Regions from separate parts of the Homo sapiens genome. Here region 1 is linked to region 2. Evidence: fine-mapped QTL for protein levels in blood plasma. A gene starts in region 2. The other region holds a variant in brackets. All regions are shown on one strand. Distances are between the middles of the regions. Region 1 overlaps MINK1 (misshapen like kinase 1). Region 2 holds the start of MINK1 (misshapen like kinase 1).

Region 1 (8,326 bases), 42 kb after region 2:
TTCATTATCCCCAGATGAAACCCAGTACGCATTAGCAGTCATTGCCCATCTTCTCCTTCCTCCCAGCCCCTGGCAACCACTAATCTACTTCTCATCTCTTTAGACTTGCCTATTCTGGACGTTACACATAAATGTAGCCACATAATATGTGGCCTTTTGTGACTAGCTTCTTTCATAAGCATAATGTCTTCAAGGTTCATCCATGTTGCAACATCTAGCAGTAGTTTATTCCCTTTTTTTGTTTTGTTTGTTTTAATTTTTTTTTTTTTTTTTTTTTTAGAGGCAGGGTCTCACTCACTCTGTCACCCAGGCTGGGGTGCAGTGGTGCTATCATAGGTCACTACTGCCTTCCGCTCCTGGGCTCAAGGGATCCTTCCACCTCAGCCTCCCATGTAGCTGGGACTACAGGTACATGCCACCTTGCCTCACTAATTTTTTAAATTTTTTGTAGAGATGTGGTCTTATTATCTTGCCAAGGTTGGTCTCAAACCTGCCAAGCAGTCTCAAACCACTTGACCTCAAGTGATCCTCCCGCCTCTGCCTCCCAAAGTGCTGGGGTTATAGACATGAGCCACCATACCTGGTCTTCATTTCTTTTTATTGCCAATATCATTCTATTATATAGATATACCACATTTATCTGTTCATCAGTTGATGGATATTTGGGTGGTTTCTACTTTTTGGTTGTTAATAATCCTCCTGTGGGCATCCATCTACATATTTTTGTGTGGATATATGTTCTCAGTTTTCTTGAGTATCTACCTAGAAGTGGAATGGCTGAGTGATATGATAACTCATTGTTTAACATTTGAGGAACTGCCAAACTGTTTTCCAAAGTGGCTGGACCATTTTACATTCCCAGCAGCAGTGTATGACAATTTCAGTTTCTCCATGCCCTCAGCAACGCTTTTGATTGTCCATCCTTTTCTAGATGGGGTAGGGAGGTGATCTCACTCTGTTGCCCAGGCTGAAGTACAGTGGCATGACCATAGCTCACTGTAGCCTCAAACTCCTGGACTTATAGGATCCTCCTGCCTCAGCCTCCTGAGGGAAATACAAATCAAAACCACAATGAGATACCACTTCACACCTACTAGGATGGCTCCAATCAAAAGGATGGACAGGCTGGGTACAGTGGCTCACTCCTGTAATCCCGCACTTTGGGAGGCCGAGGTGGGCGGATCACTTGAGGTCAGGAGTTTGACACTGGCCTGGACAACATGGTGAAATCCTGTCTCTACTAAAATACAAAAAATTAGCCAAGTGTGGTGGCAGGCAGCTGTAATCCCAGCTATTCAGGAGACTGAGGCAAGAGAATCACTTGAACCCAGGAGGTGGAGGTTGCAGTGAGCTGAGATTGCACCACTGCACTCCAGCCTGAGCAACAGAATGAGACTAAGTCTTAAAAAAAAAAAAAAAAAGGATGGACAGAGTCAGGCATGGTGCCTCACCCCTGTAATCCCAGCAGTTTGGGAGGCCAAGGCAGGTGGATCTCTTTAGCTCAGGATTCAAGACCAGCCTGGGCAACACGGTGAAACCCCGTCTACATAAAAAGTACAAAAATTGGCTGAGCGCAGTGGCTCACGCCTGTAATCCCAGCACTTTGGGAGGCCGAGGTGGGTGGATCACGAGGTCAGGAGTTTGAGACCAGTTTGACCAACATGGTAAAACCCCGTCTCTACTAAAAATACAAAAAATTACCCAAGTTTGGTGGTGCGCGCCTGTAATCCCAGCTACTCAGGAGGCTGAAGCAGGAGAATTGCTTGAACCCAGGAGGCGGAGGTTGCAGTGAGCTGGGATCGTGGCACTGCACTCCAGCCTGGGTGACAGAGACTCTGTCTCAGAAACAAAAGAAAAATCAACTCCTCAAACATCCACCCTTTTTGGCTTCTTCCCCTCCATGATGATGAACGATCTTCCCTATTTTGAAAACCCTATTGTCTGACTTTGCTGCCAGCTCTAGCTGTCATCTGATTTTCCCCCTTCCTCTCAAGGTTAGACTTCTCCAGAAAGGGTGCTGCCCTCATTTCCTCAGCACAGCCCTGTCTCCTCCAGCCCCCGCTGTCTGCCCTCTGCTCACACAGCGGCAGTTCCCAGTGGTTTCCGAGCTGCTGAAGTCAGTGGGATTTTTTTCAGTGCCCTCTGGCTGCTCTGCCGCATTCGAGGCCATCACTCCCCTTATCCCCCTGCAGCCTCCATGACCATCTCCTCTTCTGGCGTCTGTTCTGCTGCTCTCACGTGTTGCCCTTGGCCATCCACATTCTCCCTAGATATCTTGTTTGTATCTCCAACTCTTACACTCACGAATGTCTGTAAATTGTATTTACAGATCCTTGTTTCTAACTGCACAATAGAATGTACCTGTGTATCCTTTAACATCCCCAATTCAACATTCAAACCCAGCCTGTTCTCCCACAGCACAGCATGACAATAGAATGTACCTGTGTATCCTTTAACATCCCCAATTCAACATTCAAACCCAGCCTGTTCTCCCACAGCACAGCATGACAATAGAATGTACCTGTGTATCCTTTAACATCCCCAATTCAACATTCAAACCCAGCCTGTTCTCCCACAGCACAGCATGACAATAGAATGTACCTGTGTATCCTTTAACATCCCCAATTCAACATTCAAACCCAGCCTGCTCTCCCACAACACAGCATGGTCTTCGCCACTCTTTTTTCTTTTCTTTTTTTTTTTTTTTTTTTGAGAAGGCGTCTCACTCTTTCACCCAGGCTGGAGTGCAGTGGCGCAATTTCGGCTCACTGCAACCTCCACCTCCTGAGTTCAAGCGATTCTCCTGCCTCAGCCTCCCAAGTAGCTGGGTTTACAGGTGCCCACCACCATATCCAGATGATTTTTGTATTTTTTAGTAGAGACAGGACTTCATAATGTTGGCCAGGCTGGTCTCGAACTCCTGACGTCTGATGATCCGGCGTTCTCAGCTTCCCAAAGTGCAGGGATTACAGACATGAGCCATCACGCCCAACCCTAAGGTGGACTTTTTACACAATCCAACCCCCTCTTAGCTTGTGGGAGAGGACCGAGGCCTCAAACAGTTAAATACTTGCACAGAGGCACACGACTAGTGCCAGAGTTGAAAACCCCTCTCCCATGCTCTTTCCACCACACCAAGCAGCATTTCAGCGGCTTTCGTGCTTTCGGTTGCTGTTTATGATATATAATCGTAGACTGCCACATTTTCATATTTGAGTACTTGGCCAATCTATAAAATTATAAGGTTTTATATTTCTCATATATTGGTGAGCTCCCTTTTGTGTCTAATTCGGGAGTTATTACATAGTTTGTGCTCAGGAAATATGTAATGGATGAATGAAATGAGATACGATTGCCTTACAGGTTTTCCCTGCTTAGGGCTTAGCCCAGTGCAAGGCAAATGGAGGCACTCATTCAGAAGATATTTAGTGGTTGGATAATAACGGGGCATCGTTAAATGTCAGGCTGAGGTGTTGGGACTCTCTAAGCATTGGGGAGCCCCACTACCAGTTCTGGGCAGAAGAGTAAAATCAGGAAAGCGCCATTTTGGAAGAGTTAAATCAGTGGCAGCAGAAGGAAGACATGGGGGAGGCTAGAGTTCCAGGAGGGAGGACATGAGGGATTGGTCTGAGTTGGTGGACAAGCCAAGCACATGTTGAAGGGAGAAAGGACAGGGTGGCTGCGATACAGGAAAGGGAGGAGGAGGAGGAGGATTAGGCAGAGGCTGGACTGTGGTGGGAAAGCGGTGCTGCTATTGAAACATGGAGCATCTGGGTGGGGAGGGGGTGAGAGACCACAACCAGAGTGCCACGTGCGGGACCCCAACTTGCTTCTCTGAATCACCCTTTCCAGTAGGAGTTTTCAGGAAACCGACTTGAAACCCATTAAATGTCGATATCTGAACCCAGGGTGTCTGACCTCAAATATTCCTTCCTCCCTCAGTGCCGCCCAGACACGAGAAGGAGACAGATTGGGAGTCAAGGTTACAAAATTAAAATGTACTTGTAGTGATTTGACTTGATGGTGACAGATCATTATGGCTCTAACAGGCCCACGGTATTTTCCCTCTTAGATTAGGAGTGTTCAGAAAATTATGACCCTAGATCCTTTTTCCTGTCTCCCTCCTTCTCAGAAAGAGCTACAGTTTGATTCAAGAAAGGACTTCGCAGCAGTCAGTTCAGACGCCCCGGAATGGATGAGTTCTTCTGTTGGGGAGCTCTGTAGGGAAC[T/A]CTATGGTCTTTGAGCCTCTAATCTAGAACTGAAGACGGATGAGATGACTTTTTTCAGGTTCCTTCCAGCTCTCAGGGTCAGAAAGACCTCTTGTTAGCCCCCTGCACTGCAGTGACAACACCTCTCTTTCCTGTGGATCCTACTGTGATTTACACCCGTTAAATATTGTTTTAGCTGTGCATGCTGGGTCATGCCTATAATATTAATGTGTTGGGAGGCTGAGGTGGGAGGATTGCTTGAGCCCAGGAGTTCAAGGCTACAGTGAGCTGTGATCATGCCACCGCACTCCCACCTGGGCAACAGAGCGAGATCTGACTCTAAAAAAACAAAAATGAGGCCGTGCGCAGTGGCTCACACCTGTAATCCCAACACCTTGGGAGGCTGAGGTGGGTGGATCACCTGAGGTCAAGAGTTTGAGACCAGTCTGACCAACAGGGTGAAACCACGTCTCTACTAAAAATACAAAATTAGCTGGGCGTGGTGGCACACGCCTGTAGTCCCAGCTACTCGGGAGGCTGAGGCAGGAGAATCATTTGAACCCAGGAGGTGGAGGTTGCGGTGAGCCAAGATCGTGCCATTGCACTCCAGCTGGGCAACAAGAGAAAAATTCCATTTCAAAAAAAATGAATAAATTTGTTAGGTTTTTTTTCCCCCCGCCGAGACAGAGCCTTGCTCTGTCGCTTTGGTTGGAGTGCAGTGGTGTGATCTCGGCTCACTGCAACCTCCACCTCCTGGGTTCAAGTAATTCTCCTGCCTCAGCCTCCCGAGTAGCTGTGAATATAGGTGCCCGCCACCACGCCCAGCTAATTTTTTGTATTTTTAGTAGAGACGGGGTTTCACCATGTTAGCCAGGATGGTCTCGATACCCTGACCCCTTGATCTGCCCGCTTCAGCCTCTCAAAGTGCTGGGATTACAGGCGTGAGCCACCGCGCCCGGCCAAGATTTTTTTTTTCGTAACTTTAACTGAAGCCAAATAATTGAATGTAGACCCACAAAGTTCTTGGTCTGGTCAGCCCAGTCCCCTTCAGAGCACAGAGAAGGAACCCCCTTCAGCTGTCAATACTTCCTCCCGAGCAGGCTGGGCTGTTTCCTCAGGCTGCCGCGTGCCAGGCCTCAGTGAGGTCCTAGACATTACCTGGTGAGCAAGGAGGGCTCAGTCCCTTTCTCCAGTGAATAAGACAAGTAAATGTAGAGCACAATGCCTCGTGATACATGCTCTGATGGGGCAGGCACAGGGTGCCGGGGCACGTCTCCGCTCTCCAGCTCCTCTTTGAGAAAATGGAAAAAGTGCACAGTGAGGACATTTTTTAAAAGCCTTGGGCTGGTGTCTCTCTGGTCTTCAACACGCCCAAGTCGTCTTCCTTGGGCTTATTACTTCAGTGGATGAAGTGCTTTTATTGGCATGGATGTGGGCTTTTTTGGTCGTGGGATTTTTTTTTTCCTCCCAGAAACCCTATGTTAGCTTTCAAAATCAAGGAGAAAGGAGTTTTAGATTATATGCTTTTAGGATTATCAGCACAGAGGCCACGTGTTGCCTGGAGAGTTTATTCCCAAGTGCCATCCTCACTTTCTGCCTCCGCTCGGTCCCTGCAGCGGTGGGGACGGGCCCACCCAGTGAAACACCAGGACTGTCAGAACTGTCGGCTCTGAGGCAGGCGTGGTGGCTCACACCTGTAATCCCAGTACTTTGGGAGGCCAAGGCAGGAGGACTGCTTGAACTCAGAAGTTTGAGAACAGTCTGGACAACATAGTGACACCCCGTCTCTACTAAAAATAAAAAAAACTAGCCAGGAGCGGTGGTGCATGCCTGTGGTCCCAGCTGTTCAGGAGGCTGAGGTGGAGGATTGCTTGAGCCCAGGAGACTGAGGCTGCAGTGAGCTGTGATTGTACCACTGCATCCAGCCTGGGTGACAGAGTGAGACTCAGTCTCAAAAGAAAAAAAAAAAAAAGAGCCATCATTCTGCAGGAGGTGCAGGAGTGTGGACAGTACTGGGCTGTATCTCTCTTCAGCTTGCAGCTCCACCTCCCAATTTCTTTCTCTCAAAAAAAAAAGGTTCTGCCAGGAGGGTGTGGGTGGCCTCCCGACCGCAGCTGTGTTGCTGAGGCCTGGCCTGCCTGCTCTTGGCCCAGGGGGAGGACGAGCCTCTTTAGAGGCTTTGTTTGAGCCCTTCGGGCTGTCTCCTTCTGGCACTGCTTGGCTCAGAAAAGTAGGAACAGAAAGTTCTCCCTTCTCAGAGGCCCTTTCTCACCATCACCTGCTGACTCCCTCCGTCCAGGTCCCTTTGGCCCCAATTGCCTCAAACCCTGGCCTGGAAGCCCTCAGTCTCAGGGGGACTGGGAAGAGGGAAGGACAAAAGGATGGTGGCCCTGAAATTCCTGCTCCCTGCTAGCTTTCCTCATCCCTGCTTTTAAGAAGTAAGATAATAATAATGGTCATTAACTTTTATTGGGCACACGCTCTGATGCCAGGAACCATCTGAAGCATTTGATGGGCATTTCTTCACTTAAAATGTGAGTACCAACCCCAGAGGAAGGTACTCGGGCACCCTCATTTTGCACATGAGGGTACAGACGCAGTTTCTCGGTGGGTTTGAAATCGGGAACATGTCTTTGAAAAGCCATCTGCGCTCTGACTTCCATGTTCTCTCACTTCTTTTTTTTTTTTTTTTTTTGAGACGGAGTCTCACTCTGTCGCCCAGGCTGGAGTGCAGTGGCGCAATCTCAGCTCACTGCAAGCTCTGCCTCCCAGGTTCACGCCATTCTCCTGCCTCAGCCTCCCAAGTAGCTGGGACTACAGGCGCCCGCAACCACGCCCAGCTAATTTTTTGTATTTTTAGTAGAGACGGGGTTTCACCGTGTTAGCCAGCATGGTCTCGATCTCCTGACCTCGTGATCCACCTGCCTCGGCCTCCCAAAGTGCTGGGATTACAGGCGTGAGCCACCGTGCCCGGCCACTCACTTCTTCCAACTTTTCCCGTAGAACATTCACTCTGAACCAATCCAGGAAAAGGGCAGCCAGCCACCAGGGTTCCTGCCACGTGCCCTCCTGATATGCTGGTCTTCACTCCCATATCTTGACTGGATACCACTTTACCCCCCTCTAGCTCTGTAATCCTTTTCTAAAGTCTTGACACAGTATTCTTCTGTCTCCTGCCCCTAGGACCCTGCTGGGATCTTTGAGCTTGTGGAGGTGGTCGGCAATGGAACCTACGGACAGGTGTACAAGGTGAGACGAATGGTGTGGAAGTATGACCTCCACATCTGCAGGGCAGTCTTGGGAGGAGTGGAAGGAAGTAGATTCCTGGTCTGCAGGTCTGAAGGGGGCTATGGGAGATGCTAGAGTCTAGGGCCCTGGAAAGGTAGAGTGGGGGAGAGGAAAGAGCACCCAGAAGGAGGTACTGTTGATGCCTCTCTCTACCTGAGTGCAGAGCCAGTCCCGGACATGGTGGGAACAGGCCAGCAGCCAGGCAGGGTGGCCTGCAGCAGTGAGAGCAGGTGGAAGGGCATACGGCCTTGTGTGTCAGAACTCTCCTGGGATTCAGAGAGAGCTAAGGCCAGAGATGTGGGTTTGGCCTCTCCCCAGACCACAAAGAGACCCAGGACTTTGAGGTAGTGGGACCTAATGGGTGGCCTTCTGCAGAGGGGATGTGGCCTCTGCTCCCACAGCTGGCCTGCTGGGGCCAGAGCTCAGGCTTTTGGCTTTTGAGCTGCCTCTGTCCCTGACAGAAGTGGCAGGTTCTCAGCCACTGATGGTAGCTTTTAGGTTGGCCAGCCCAGCCCTCTCGTGTGGCCTGACCACACTGCTCACACTTGGATGGGGGGAGCCACTCCAGCGGGGAGTAAGGTGGCCTGACCACTGCTCACACTTGGATTGTGGGAGCCGCTGCAGCAGGGAGTGAGGTGGCCTGACCACTGCTCACACTTGGATTGTGGGAGCCGCTGCAGCAGGGAGTGAGGTGGCCTGACCACTGCTGACACTTGGATTGGGAGGAGCCGCTGCAGCAGGGAGTGAGGTGGCCTGACCACTGCTGACACTTGGATTGTGGGAGCCGCTGCAGCAGGGAGTGAGGTGGCCTGACCACTGCTCACACTTGG
Region 2 (8,326 bases):
GTTCTGGGAAGTGAGTAGAGTATTTCAGTATGGCTGGAAAATGTGAGGTCTAATAGTTGAGTATTGAAAAGTAAGGCAGGCACTGAGCAGGGTGGTTCATGCCTATAATCCCAGCAACTCAAGAGCCTGAGGCAGGATTAACACTTGAGCCCAGGAGTTGGAGGCTGCCGTAAGCCATGATCGTGCCACTACACTCTAGCCTGGGTGATAGAGCAAGACCCCAACTCCTAAAGAAGCAAACCGTTAACAAAGAAAAAGAAGGCAAGAAAAGCCAGCAGAATCTTGAAGGGTCTTTGATGCCACACTTTGCCTTTTTTTTTTTTTTTTTTTTTTTTTTTTTTATGAGACAGAGTCTCACGCTGTCACCCAGGCGGGAGTGCAGTGGTGCAATCTCAGCTCACTGCAACCTCTGCCTCCTGGGTTCAAGCAATCCTCTTGCCTCAGCCTCCCAAGTAGCTGGGATTATAGGCACACCCCACCACGCCCGGCTAATTTTTTGTATTTTTAGTAGAGACGGCATTTCACCATGTTGGCCAGGCTGGTCTCGAACTCCCAATCTCAGGTGATCCACCTGCCTCAGCCTCCCAAAGTGCGGGGATTACAGGTGTGAGCCACCATGCCCAGCCAATCTGGTTTTTGTTTTGTTTTGAGATGGAGTTTCGCTCTTGTTGCCCAAGCTGGAGTGCAATGGCATGATCTCGGCTCACCACAACCTCCGCCTCCCAGATTCAAGAGATTCTCCTGCCCCGGCCTCCTAAGTAGCTGGGATTACAGGCATGCGCCACCACACACGGCCAATTTTGTATTTTTAGTAGAGACGGGGTTTCTCCATGTTTGTCAGGATGGTCTCGATCTCTTGACCTCGTGATCCACCTGCCTTGGCCTCCCAAAGTGCTGGGATTACAGGCGTGAGCCACCGTGCCTGGCCTTTTTTTTTTTTTTTTTTTTTTGAGACAGAGTCTCGCGCTGTTGCCCAGGCTGGAGTGCAGTCGCCTGCCTTGGCTTCCCCAAGTGCTGGGATTGCAGGCATGAGCCACCACGCCCGGCCAATTTTTTTTTTTTTTTTTTTTGAGACGGAGTCTTGCTCTGTCGCCCAGGCTGGAGTGCAGTGGCACGACCTCGGCTCACTGCAAGCTCCGCCTCCGGGGTTCACACCATTCTCCTGCCTCAGCCTCCGGAGTAGCTGGGACTACAGGCGCCCACCACCACGCCCGGCTAATTTTTTTTTGTATTTTTGGTAGAGACGGGGTTTCACCGTGTTAGCCAGGATGGTCTTGATCTCCTGACCTCGTGATCCTCCCGCCTCAGCCTCCCAAAGTGCTGGGATTACAGGCGTGAGCCACTGCACCCGGCTTTTTTTTTTTTTTTTTTTTTGAGACGTTGTCTTGCTCTGTCACCCAGGCTGGAGTGCAGTGGCACGTTCTCGGCTCACTGCAACCTCTGCCTCCCGGGTTCAAGCGATTCTTCTGCATCGGCATCCCGAATAGCTGGGATTACAGGCGCCTGCCACCATGCCCGGCTAATTTTTGTATTTTTAGTAGAGACATGGTTTCACCATGTTGTCCAGGCTGGTCTCAAACTCCTGACCTCAGGTGATCCACTCGTCTCGGCCTCCCCAAAAGTGCTGGGATTACAGGCGTGAGCCACTGCACCCGGCTTTTTTTTTTTTTTTTTTTTTGAGACGTTGTCTTGCTCTGTCACCCAGGCTGGAGTGCAGTGGCACGTTCTCGGCTCACTGCAACCTCTGCCTCCCGGGTTCAAGCGATTCTTCTGCATCGGCATCCCGAATAGCTGGGATTACAGGCGCCTGCCACCATGCCCGGCTAATTTTTGTATTTTTAGTAGAGACATGGTTTCACCATGTTGTCCAGGCTGGTCTCAAACTCCTGACCTCAGGTGATCCACTCGTCTCGGCCTCCCCAAAAGTGCTGGGATTACAGGCGCAAGCCACCGTGCCCGGCCAATTTTTTGTATTTTTAATAGAGACAGAGTTTCACTATGTCTGCGAGGCTTGGCCGGTTGTGGTGGTTCACGCCTGTAATCCCTGCACTTTGGGAGGCCAATGCAGGTGGATCACCTGAGACCAGGAGTTCGAGACCAGCCTGGCCAACATGATGAAACCCCGTCTCAACTGAAAATACAAAAAATTAGCTACGCGTGGTGGCGTGCACCTGTAATCCCAGCTACTCAGGAGGCTGAGATAGGAGAATTGCTTGAACCCGGGAGGCGGAGGTTGCAGTGAGCCAAGATTGTGCCACTGCACTCCAGCCTGGGCAACGAGAACAAAACTCTGTCTCCACCAAGGTGACATTTTCCACCCTGTGTCCTGTTCCCCAATAAAAACAAATTCACAAATTCACAAAAAAACTAAACTAAACTAAAACTGTCTAAAAAAAAAAAAAAAAAAAAAAAAACAAACAAAAAACCCCACCATGTTGGCCAGGCTGGCCTCCAACTCCTGTCCTCAAGGGATCCTGTAATCTCCGCATTTTGGGAGGCCGAGGCAGGCAGATCACTTGAGGCCAGGGGTTTGAGACCAGATTGGGCGACATGGCAAAGCCCCATCTCTACAAAACATATAAAAATCAGCCAGGTGTAGTGGCATGCGCTGCCTGTAGTCCTGGCTACTTGGGAGGCTGAGGTTGGAGGATAGCTTGAGCCCAGAAGCTTGAGGTTGCAGTGAGCAGAGATCATACCATTGTACTCCAGCCTGGGTGACAGAGCGAGACTTTGTCTTTAAAAAAAAAAAAATAGAGGCTGGGCACAGTGGCTGACGCCTGTAATCCCAGCACTTTGGGAGGCCGAGGCGGGCGGATCACGAGGTCATGAGATCGAGACCATCCTGGCTAACATGGTGAAACCCCGTCTCCACTAAAAATACAAAAAATTAGCCGGGCGAGGTGGCGGGCGCCTGTAGTCCCAGCTACTCAGGAGGCTGAGGCAGGAGAATGGCATGAACCCGGAAAGCGGAGCTTGCAGTGAGCTAAGATCGCACCACTGCACTCCAGCCTGGGCGACAGAGTGAGACTCTGTCTCAAAAAAAAAAAAAAAAAAAAAAAAATAGAATTGACTTGAAGGAGTCAGGCCGGAAGGCCAAATAGGAGATGAATGGGGATAGCGGCTTGAATAAGGGCAGTGGCAAGGAAAATGGGCTAGGGGTTAGGGAAGGGGGCCGACTGGCTGTGCACCCAAATGCTAAAAACGGTCCAGAAAGGAATGTGTTCAGCTATTTTTCAAGGACTTCTAAATTAAACTCTCTTAAATGATGTTTATATTAAGGCTGGTGGTGGAGTCTTTCAGAGGCAGTGTTGGTGCTAGAAGAGCTCTTGAGGATCATACAGCCTCCCCCCTCAATTTCACAGTGAAAGAAAACCTCAGAGAAGCAAAGCAACTTGCTCAAGGTCACACAGCATTTCAGTGGTAGAACATGACTCGTGGTTCTTAGATAGCATTACCCAGCCTCCACTGAGGCTAATGGCTGTAGGCGCTATGCCAACATGACTAGATCTAAGGTGACCCAAGCTATATTTTAAGGGACTGAACGCAGATTCCCTCTCTTCCCCTTCGCCACCCCTTCCTCCACGCGCGACTCCAGTGATCAATGAATAATTGTGGAAACAGTTCCTTTGTGCAGAACACTTTGTTAAAAGAGGTGCAGAGATACACGTCTGCGGTAGGATTCCTTATCCTGAGATCTGAGAGCACCTCGATGCTTCCCCAACCTGCTAGGTGAGGGTGGAAAGGGCATTCCTGAGGCAGCCGGTGCCCCTCCTCTGCCCCCCAACTCCCACGTGGTTTCTCCAGCCAAGTTCTCACGGAGTGGCCCCTCCCTCAGCGGCTCCACTGTTGCCATAGCAATTGGGTGGGTGGACAGCCCGTCCTATCTAGAGGCCACCCAGCCCTCGCGTGGGGAGTTACCATAACAACCCCCTAGTAATAGAGGGGGTTGGGTACCGCCCCCTTCCCCCGCAAATGGAAAGGTGGGTGGCTTGATTGGCAGCTGGGCACACGAAAGAAGGAGGGAAAGGGAAGGAAAGGCGTCAAAGGAGATCTGAGAAGGAAATAAGGGAGAGAAAGGGCAAAAAAAATAGGGAAAGAAAAGGAAACGCGTGTGCGCACGCGCACCAGCTGGTGGGCGCGCTCCGCGGCCGCCTCGGCCGCCGCCCACTTCTTTCACGCCAGGCTCGCGCGGTCGCTCCGTCCTCGCGCGCGCCTTTCGCCTGCTCGCCTGCGCCTGCGCGCAGGTGTCGGCGCCTAGGGGGAGGGGGCCCCGGCGCGCTCGCGTCACGCTCGCGCTTCCACCCTCCCAGTGCGCGGTCGCTCCGCGCCTGCGCAGGAGAGGTGGTAGGCTCGGGTGGCTGGCTCCGGGGAGATAGCGCCTGTCAGTCGGTGGGTCGGTCCTCGCGCCGGCCCTCCCCCTCCCCGGTCTCCGGGGGAGGCGCGGTGGAGTCCGCCCCCGGGGTTCTCCGATGGGGGAGAAGCGGCGACGGCGGCAGTGGAGTAACCGAGCCGGAGCGTGAGCGGCCCCGGTGCCCCGTTCCCCACGGAGGCCATGGGCGACCCAGCCCCCGCCCGCAGCCTGGACGACATCGACCTGTCCGCCCTGCGGGTGAGCGCGCCGTCCCCCAGCCTCGCCCTGGTTCCTGTCCCCGCCGCAGGGGAGGGAGCGGGGTGGCTGCACGCCTCACGTGCTCCCGGGCGCCCCCTCCACCAGCTTGGGTCCCCTTGGCGACCCGTGCCCCTTTCCCGGACTCCCGCCGCGGCTGGGCCCCCGCCCTCTGCTCCCTTCTCTCTCCACTGGCTGCAGATGCTGGGAGCCAGTTCGGTCCCCACCCTGTGGTGCCCCGCCCCCACACTTCCGTGCCACCCTACCTTTACTCTGGGGTTCGGGACCCACTGGTTCGCCTAAACTTAGCCTCCCCCATCACCTGGAGAACCTTTATTGTGGTTCCTTACCTCCTTTCGGCCCTTTTCCACCTTTGCCCTTACTTCTATCTTCTTCCTTCCCCTCCTCTTCCTCAGCTCCTGGAATTTTGACTTTGCAACTGTCTCGACAGCCTCTCTCTCATCCCTCTTTCTCTGCCTCGCCCACCCTTGAATTGCATCCTTTCCCTGGTCGGAATTTCAGCTACCCCACCCCTCGTGCCGTCACCCTCAATCCCATGTTCAGTTTTCCCTATCCCTTCTCTCCTGTTTCAAGTGCAGCAGTTCAGAACCAGGCATTTCCGGTCTCAGGGTCCCTGAATATTACATGACCAACTCTGCAGCAGCGTGGGGCTGGGAGCCCTCGGGGAGGAGGGGAGGCATTTCTTCTCTTTGGAAACTGTAGCACGGGCTGGGAAGAGGATGTTTACACACACACACACGCGCACACACGACACATGCTACATGTGGTCAGGCTGAAGGTTTGGAAAGGCAGTGGGTGTTTATGTTAGCTAAAGGCTGGAAGCAATGGAGACCTCTCAAGGTAGGGGCTAATAAGGAAAGGGGTTGAGAGGAAGCAAATGCTGCAGGAATTTCTTGGAAATACCCGTTCATTGTCCCTTGTGGGGCACTTACACACTCTGGTGGAAGAGCTTTCTGTAGCATTTATGTTTTTCTTCGGCAGGGAGCTTTGGCTTAAGGGGCAACTTAGTGATTTCAAGGTGAACACTCCAGACTATCAGCCAGGTGGTGTTTTGATCCTGTGCCCTTCCAGCGCTCTCACCAGGCCAAGGTGTGGGGAGAGCAGGACTTCCCATCTCTAGGTTCGCTTCTCTGGAGGCCCCTGCTCAGACTGTCTTCTGGCTTTTGAGTCAGCCAGGGAACATGGCCAGTAGTGGGAAAAGGCGGTCAGCCACACAGGTGCCCCGGATATGGCTGGAGGGGAGAGGGGAATTGAAGAGAGCAGAGTCATGTTGTTAATTGGGTTTCTCTAGGTGACACAGTTTTTTTTCTTCCCATTTTCAGGTCATAATTTGTTTGGTGCAATGTTGGGCTATGAGACCTGACTTGCTGGAGATAACGTGATAAATTTCTGGGGAGAGGGACTGAACGCTGAATTTCTCTGTGTGCGCAGGCACATGTGTGTGTGTTGATGAGGAGAGGGTCTGAAGGCTTTAGGAGGGAGATTCTTAAGGTCAGCTTGGCCAGGGTTTAAACTGGGATGCCCAAGTCGGGATATAAGATGGAAATCCAGATTCTGAGTAAAAGTCCCTTAATGTGCTCCATTCTGGGATGAACTTCCACCTTTCCTTCCTACCTTGGTTATTGATTAACTGGCTACAGGTTCCTGTGGCTGGGGTGACTAAAATACAATAAAAAATGGGTGGGTCAGGCCGGGCGAGGTGCTCACACCTGTAATCCCAGCACTTTGGGAGGCCGAGGTGGGGCATCACCTGAGGTCAGGAGTTCGGGACCAGCCTGGCCAACACTGTGAAACCCCATCCTTACTAAAAATACAAAAATTAGCCACACGTGGTGGCACACACCTGTGATCCCAGCTACTCAGGAGGCTGAGGCAGGAGAACTGCTTGAACTGGGGAGGTGGAGGTTGCAGTGAGCCAAGATTGCACCACTGCACTCCAGCTTGGGCGACAAAGCGAGACCTTGTCTTAAACAAAACAAAACAAAACAAAAAAACGGGGCGGGTCCAAACCACAACCTTTGCTTTGAACCTTGTGGGACTCTGCTTGGGTTTCTCTTTTAGCCTCTTTTGGTAGTTTGGCCTGGACCCTCAACCTGGGATTTCCAGCAATTCCACAAATACCCTCTGACCTTAGATGTGGTATTTCCCTTCTGGACTTCTCGGCTTGAAGCAATGTTAGCCTTCCTCAGTTGCCTCCAGCCTTACTCTCCTCTCCCCTCAGGAGACCGGGTGACCTGCTCCCAGTGCTTCTGTCTGGCCTGCCTTAAGCTGCTTAAGAAAGCATTCTGCTTCCCCCTTTCCACCCTAAAATGCAAGGGCTTGAGGGAGGGCTGTACCTCCTTTGACATGGGGCTAGCCAGGGCCTACCTTCTCCCTGCTGCAGACCTTTTCTCAGTGCCTGTCCCCCTGACTCCACCTCAGAGAGCTGTGGCACTGTCAAGCAGCTAGTGTGGTCATCTCTTGTGCTATTCCTGTCTGTTTTCCAGTGAGAAATGGTGTCTCCCTTTACTACACCATCTTGTGTTGGGGGCTGGGGAGAGGGATGGGAGAGGAACATATTCAGTATTTATTTGCTGGCCTTAAGGAGCCCAAGGTGTATTTCTCCTCTTGTTTCAAGATAAGGCTTGGTTTTCAGCTGGTGATGAGGGTAATCGTCTGATATTAGGGAAGATTGAATTGCGTTAATCTCTTAGCCATGTGTGGGGAGGCCAGATGGACCTGCTACTTTGTAGCCACAGCCACACTTGACCTCTTTGAGGTTCCTTTTCTCCACCAGCCTGGCTGCAGCGTGGTGAGGAAAAGCATGTGGTTTGAAGTTGCAGCCCTGAGTTCAAGTCCTAGTTTCTTCCCTTACAATGTAACCCTGGCCCTGCTCCCCTTACTGCAGATTCTGCCAAGAGCCTTACCCTCTCTAAGCTTCATTCAGTCCTGTATCGTGGGCATGGTAATAGTACTGAATGCAGAGTTGCTGAGGATTAAATGCACGTTAAGTACATAGTACAGTTCCCAGCACACAGTGATCATATATGTGATAGCCCTTTTTGCAGTTATTTTTATCAAATGGCAATCAGAGAAGCCTTCCAGGACAACTTTATCTAAAATAGCACTCCCTCCTCTGCTTTATTTTTATACAAAATTTTATATAGCATTCCCTTAGTCTGCTTTATCCTTCCTCATAGTATTTATCACCAGCTGACATATATATTCCTGTCAGCCCCACTAAAATGTCAGTTCAGTGGCCGGGTGTGGTAGCTCACGACCGTAATCCCAGCACTTTGGGAGGCCGAGGCAGATGGATCACCTGAGAGGTCAGAAGTTCGAGACCAGCCTGGCCAACATGGTAAAACCCCATCTCTACTAAAAAAAAAATACAAAAAAATTAGCCAGGCATGGTGGCGCACACCTGTAATCCCAGTTACTCGGGAGGCTGAGGCAGGAGAATCACTTGAACCTTGGAGGTGGAGGCTGCAGTGAGCCAAGATTGCACCACTGCACTCCAGCTTGGGCGACAAAGCCAGACTCTGTTTCAAACAACAACAACAACTACAACAAACAGTTCGGTGAAAGCTAAGATTTTGGCTGTTTTGTTCATTTTTGTATCCCCAGTGCCTGTAAGCATGTTTTGCACATAATGGGGGCTCAAACGTTTGTTGCAGAAGTGCCTCTTACAACACGTGCCACTTACAACACAGTGCAGTG

The links. A credible set is the group of variants that fine-mapping cannot tell apart. PIP is the chance, under the fine-mapping model, that this variant and not a neighbour inherited with it causes the effect. Protein levels are from antibody-based Olink assays in UK Biobank. Linkage for the fine-mapping came from a reference panel and not from the study's own genotypes, which makes the PIPs less certain.
Region 1: its variant is the best candidate, but not a certain one, in a credible set for the plasma level of the MINK1 protein (UK Biobank, PIP 0.68).

What each region holds. Positions count from the first base shown.
Region 1 is chr17:4,870,926-4,879,251 of GRCh38, forward strand. It overlaps MINK1 (misshapen like kinase 1), which reads left to right. Exons shown (of 32, transcript NM_153827.5): 2 at 7,392-7,457. Among named protein-coding and RNA genes, the nearest start is that of C17orf107, 24 kb to the right of the region's middle. The variant T/A (reference allele first, on the strand shown) is at 4,230.
Region 2 is chr17:4,829,032-4,837,357 of GRCh38, forward strand. MINK1 (misshapen like kinase 1) reads left to right here and starts at 4,309. Exons shown (of 32, transcript NM_153827.5): 1 at 4,309-4,609. The coding sequence starts at 4,553. RefSeq lists an enhancer at 3,366-4,152 and silencers at 4,130-4,599, 4,610-4,859.